2 separate regions of the Homo sapiens genome follow, and region 2 is linked to region 1. Evidence: fine-mapped expression QTL. A gene starts in region 1. The other region holds a variant in brackets. All regions are shown on one strand. Distances are between the middles of the regions.

Region 1 (2,914 bases):
CGGCTCATTAATCAGATGGCAGGTTCTAGCACCCAGCAGGGGTGCACAAAATGAGAGCCTGTGGTTCTGGTGTCTCACCCTGAAATGCTCCAAGCTCTGGACAAGCTGAGGCCAGAGAAGGGGCCACAGGAGCTTGGACAAGAAAACTCACATCCCATTTCCTAAAGGTGTGTGTGTATGAACACATTCCCAAACATAGGTTTTTTTTCTTTTCTTATGATAACTTCTTTCTCCTTTGGGCCTGAAGTCATTTTGGAGGTGAGGAGACTTTTCCCACAAAAAGAAGATTGGGGAAGACATTCTGACACCTCCTGCAACCATAAGAATTTTCCAGTGAGGGCATCCAGCTTATCCAATGGAGACAAATGGGGAATTAGGGAGGGGGAAGGAAGAGAGAGGGGACTGGGAGTCCAATGGGAGGCATGATCTCTAGGAGATATTTAAACATGGCATGCAAGTATCATAACATTTACATTTACACTCAGTTTGGATCTCTTTGGGGTGCAGCCCCTGAAGTATGTGGAGAGGACGTGTTCTGGCTAAGCAGATGGGTGGGGTAGGGGAGTGCAATATACACTGCTGTTCTCCCCTGGCCCTCCAAGTACCTCCCTTTTTCACCCTCAGTGTCCTAGCCAAACCTAAGTCAAATACTACCAGCCTCCTATAGCAGGGAGGGGAGCTCTTCCTGCAGCACCCCTGCTAAAGGTTTCCTGACGCTGATAGTACTTTTGGGTTCCTGAGACTCTGTTTCTCATTTGACTAAAGCCACATGCCACTTGCATCCTGTTGGTCAGGACAGGGTTCCTACCACACTGCCCCTCACCCCCAGATCCCATCCTCAAAGAGCTACATGGGTGTAGGATAGGGGATTCCGGAGAGGGGCTAGACATGCTCTGCAGGCCTGCAGTGCCCCCAACTCACCTCCAGGATCAGCTCCTCCATCTCAAATTGTCTTTGTGAGGCCTTGTCATCCTCGGGGGGTTCATGGTAGAGGAGTGCCAGCACCTCATACTTCTTGAACACATTCTTGTAGTTCTTTGCATTGACATTGATCACACGGTCCACACCATCGTACTCAGGGAAGTCCAGCCCTTCCTGCCCCTGTACCCCTGACTTGGGTGTCCCTAGCACCAGCAGCAACAGCAGTGCCAGCCGCAGACCCGGCACAGCTCTGGGCCCCATCCTGTCTGTAGCACTCATGGAGGTAGTGGGATCTGGGTTGGCTCTCCTGGTCCAGAAGAGGTTAGCTGGGGTAGGGAGGGGCCCCTGGGTCCCAGATTCTGAGTTAGGGGCTCAAGTGGGAGGGGGGATTGGGGAATGGCCCAGAGCAGTGGACAGAGGGCACTGCTGGGTCCTGGAGAAACTGCCGACAGAGCCAAGGGAAAAAGGGTCAGGTGGAGGAATAGGAGCAGGGGGCGGGGAGGGAACCGGAGCTGCCCCCTGAAATTGGCACCCCTCAGTCCCCACCTGGTCCTGTCTAAATATGTCTCCATGGTTGGCAGGAGAGACGGATAACCTTCTGAGGCCAGGACAGCTCCATGCGGGCCGGAATCCTCCCACCTCCTACACTTCTACCCCAGGCTCCCAGGGGCTCCTTCCCTCCCCCTCCTCCAGTGTCCAGGGCACCTCAGCCCCGGTCCCCACACTGGCCTAAGAGCTCATCGCCATATTAAGAAAGGAAAAGGAGAGATGCCGGAGCTAAAAATAAGACCAGATGAGTCGGAGGTAAATGAAGCTGGGGCTGGGGGAGGGGAGGTATAAGGGTAATTAGGGTGGGCCGAGGGTGGGGCAAGGGTAATTAGAAGTTAAATGCAGTGGAGAGGAGGAGCTAACTGGGTCAGAGGCTAAATTGATAATATAGGACAAAAGGGGGACAAATGTGGTATTGGCTCTATGTCCTAAAGCCTGGGAATCTTCTGTAGGTGAAGTCTGATTCTGATTCTTTGATACTATGTAGGAGAGTGGGGCGATAAAAGTGCAAGCCAGGCTGCAGGAAAGAGACCCCCTCCACTTTCTTTTAAAGAACCAGGACCAAGGATGAGGTCATTCTCTGAATAAAAGATGGAGCCGCGTCCAAGACTGGCAACCTGGCTCAGCTCCAGCCAGTTTCCTTTGCTTCACTCAGCACTCCTAACTTGGGAATGCAGGGAAGGACAGGGCTGGCCCAGATCCTGTCCTGTAGAGATGTGGGTTTGGGGTTTCTCTGCCTATAAAGCCCACAATGAGAAGGGGTCTGTCCTTTGGTTGCCACCTGTGTGTGCACTCCCTACCCTGATCCTATGGGACTCGGTTTTCTGGGGCACAGTGGGAAGGGAGGTTTTCCCAGGCTGCATGCTTCCAAGGAGAGTGAATAGCTACTATTTATTCCCATGTCTTTGACAAGACAAAGAGGATCAGGTATTGACACCAGGGCAAAAAAAAATTAACATTAGGCAAGCATGAAGAGGTGAACCCTGTGCCCTGAACCAAGACTGATGATTAATTCTGTGCACCCGAGATCCAAAGCAGAGATGGGCGGGTAGGGGCTTAAACTTCTGGATCCAGCTTGGGGGGTGAGGACAGAGTAGTGAGTTTAACTCTGGATACGTAGGAAGGAAGGATCCTCTTCATGGCCCTCCAGGGTTCTTACTATGCACAGGTAAACTGAGGCATGAGGGAGACCATAGAGGGTCAGATCAAAGTCACATGCTGCCACTGCACCCTGAGGTATCTCTGATTCTAGAGGGACAGTGGTGTTTTTTTTGTTTTGTTTTGCATCCAGGGAGGGTCATGTAATTATGTTAGCAGAATAACTTTTCCACATGTCTGTGTGGTGGACCTTACACAGCTGAACACGGAAGGCCACAGAAAATCTCAAAAGCATGGCAGGAGTGAGGCCAAGAGGGACAGCTGTCACTGTAGCAGGAGAGGTTGG
Region 2 (2,914 bases), 46 kb after region 1:
TCCAACATTTTTATCAGTAATAGATACTGAATTTTACTGATAGCCTCCTCAACCTTTTTTGAAATGATTATTTCATCCTTTGTCTAGTTAATGTTAGTTGTTTGTAACATTTTCCTTGTAATATGCTATCCTTGCATTCCACCATTTGGGGTAGTCAATTTATTATCTATATTAAATATAAAATTTTAACAAAATAGTACTTATCTCATAAAATAGGCTGGGCAACACAAAACACAAAATAATTTTTTATATTCCAGCACATTTTAAATAATATAAGGAAATTCTTTGAGGAATTTGCAAAAAATCCTTCATTGAATTCACTGGAGCCAAGGATATTTTTGAAAGACTCACTTTGTATTAAATGTCTTCCTTTGATATTGATCTAACCACTTTCTTCCTATTTTTTGCTGCGTTCTTAGCATTATGAATATTTAGTGACTATCTCTGATTATCTCTGATGCATGATCACATTTCCTATTCTGTAGATAAAAAGAAAATGCCATGGAAAGACTTTCTGCCTGGGTCAAAAGTTGGCCTTAGCTTCTCAGATTACATTCAATAGTAAGATTCTTCTTTTTGCTAAAATCCTCTAGCAGACCATCAAATCTCTTTGGATCTTTTTCTTTCTTTCTTTTCTTTTCTTTCTTTCTTTTTTTTTTTTTTTTCTGAGATGAAGTCTTGCTCTGTCACCCAGGCTGGAGTATAGTGGCACAATCTCGGCTCACTGCAGCCTCTGCCTCCTGGGTTCAAGCCATTCTTCTACTTCAGCCTCCTGAGTAGCTGGGATTACAGGTGTATACCCGGCTAATTTTTGTATTTTTAGTGGAAGACAGGGTTTCACCATGTTGGCCAGGATGGTCTCGAACTCCTGACCTCAAGTGATCTGCCCACCTTGGCTTCTCAAAGTGCTGGGATTACAGGCGTTAGCCACTGTGCCTGGCCTGGATCTTTTTCTTAACCCCCTACCGCATCTTTGAGATCATATCTTCTCCCTTTCTCACGGATCTGCCTTGCCCCTGCTGCTCAAATGTTAATTGTCCACAAATTCCTGGCTCCCTTGGCAGCCTCCCCAGTTCACTGAGCCATTGGGCTAGTCAGGCTCTGTCCATGCACATAGGCTTTCTGTTCTTGCAGTTGCAGAGCATGGCATGGTTAAGAGGGCAGGCCCTGGAGTCAGACTGGCCTAGGTTTGAATCCTGCTTCAGATGCTTACTACCTTTGAAACTTTGAATAATAATTTAACTTTCTGAGCACCAGTTTTCTCATCTGTAAATTGGAGATAATAATAGTCTCCATCTTACTGAATTACTGTGAGGATCCTTTCAGTCATCCAACACATATTTATTAATTGTCTAACGTGTGTCAGATGTTTTAGGTGCTAAGGATAAAGGTGTTGAACAAAAGAAATAGAGTCTCTGTCTTCATGGAACTTATACTGGAGGAGTCAGACAAACAAAAGCATAAACAGCAACAAAATACATGTATATCTTTCTAAATATTACATCTAGCTGTCTTTCTATCTAAATTTAAGGTAATAAGTATTTATGAACAAAAACGAAGAGAACAGAGAAAGAGGTTCCAGGAAGTCATTTTATTTGAGGTCCTCTGTGAGGATCTTAC[T/C]GATGTTTAAGGAGTGATCTGAATGAAGTGACAAAGCCAGGCATGTGAATAACTAGGGAAAAGTGTTCCTGGCAGAGGGACCATCAAGAATAAAGGCCCTGTGGTGGGATGAACGGAGACTATACAAATAAAATTTTGGCATAGTTATGGCACAAAATGAGCTGTGATTAAGGCTCTTATAATCACTACTAACTATAACTGTCATTAATGACACTGTTAAGAGTCATAATAAAGGGGCTGCAATATGGCTTGGGCAAGAATTGACTTCTGACCGTTATTCTGAAATCCTGGCATAGGTTGTAAGAGTTGGTGTCTTTCTCTCTCCCATTCCCAGGGCCCCCCTGGAGCAATGCACACCCACCCACCCACCCCTCCATCTCCAGCACACAAGCGTCCCCCCTACTGCTCATTACATTCTGTCCATGATGGTTTCTGATGTCTACTACTCAGGTGAATTTCAAGGATTGCATCCACTTTACCCCCACCCCTTAAAGAGAGCACCCAGGACAAAGCTCTGCATGAAGTACAGATTGTGAATTGGTGTTGACTCTTGGGCTCCTCAACCCACTATCTCCTTCCCCCATCCCATCAGATAGAGAATGGCCTGATTTTGGTCTGGAACAGAAAAAGCAGAAGTGCCCCTGAGGATCTTGTTCTTAATAGACTCACAGGCCCCTCCCTGTCCTGGACAAACTCTTGTGGCTCTTAGGGTGGGATCAGCATGAGGAAGGAGGCTCCTGCTATAGTTTCTTGTAGGTTATTTTGCAACCTAACTTCTTCCCCTCTTGCTTTCTCCACGGACATCATCTGCTCCCAGACCATTTCCCTCCCATCCCTGACACTTGCTATCTCTTTGTTGCTTTCCCTACAAGCCGAGTTCTGCCACAGCACATATTTCAATATCACGATTTAGGAGGGAGGCAAGTATAAAGTGTAGAAATCTGAATTATGGAAGAGATTTCTTTTTTTTTCATAAAGAAATGCCACTTTATTATTTTCAAGTACATAGGTAGTACCTCAAACTAATGTCTTACAAAAGGTCACCAATAAAGATCCTGTAGATGTTTCTTTAACAAATACATAAAGATTGATGATAATTAGCCCATGCACTCGCTGCTTCTAAAAGGATATTTCTAAAGTGCCTGAAAAGTATTGTTTTTGGTAGACTAAACATGCCACCTCTAGCAATATTGTTTATGCTCTTAATTTACTAAAAAAATGCCATTTTTATTGATTGTGCAAAGATAAACTTTTGTCCACAGTTAGTAATCTCCAATTAATCGGATCCAAATTA

Which allele goes with the higher level. Alleles are on the strand shown, and positions count from the first base shown. SD is a standard deviation of normalised expression in the study named.
In carriers of allele C in region 2, the expression in tibial nerve of the gene that starts at base 1,377 in region 1 tends to be lower than with T alone (moderate effect, 0.44 SD a copy in GTEx).

What was found. PIP is the estimated chance that this variant, and not a neighbour inherited with it, causes the effect.
Region 2: its variant is fine-mapped to the expression of CASQ1 in tibial nerve (GTEx, PIP above 0.99).

What each region holds. Positions count from the first base shown.
Region 1 is chr1:160,189,038-160,191,951 of GRCh38, reverse strand. It overlaps CASQ1 (calsequestrin 1), which reads right to left and starts at 1,377. Exons shown (of 11, transcript NM_001231.5): 1 at 922-1,377. The coding sequence starts at 1,200.
Region 2 is chr1:160,143,260-160,146,173 of GRCh38, reverse strand. It overlaps ATP1A2 (ATPase Na+/K+ transporting subunit alpha 2), which reads right to left. Exons shown (of 23, transcript NM_000702.4): 23 at 2,583-2,914. Among named protein-coding and RNA genes, the nearest start is that of ATP1A4, 6.9 kb to the left of the region's middle. The variant T/C (reference allele first, on the strand shown) is at 1,621.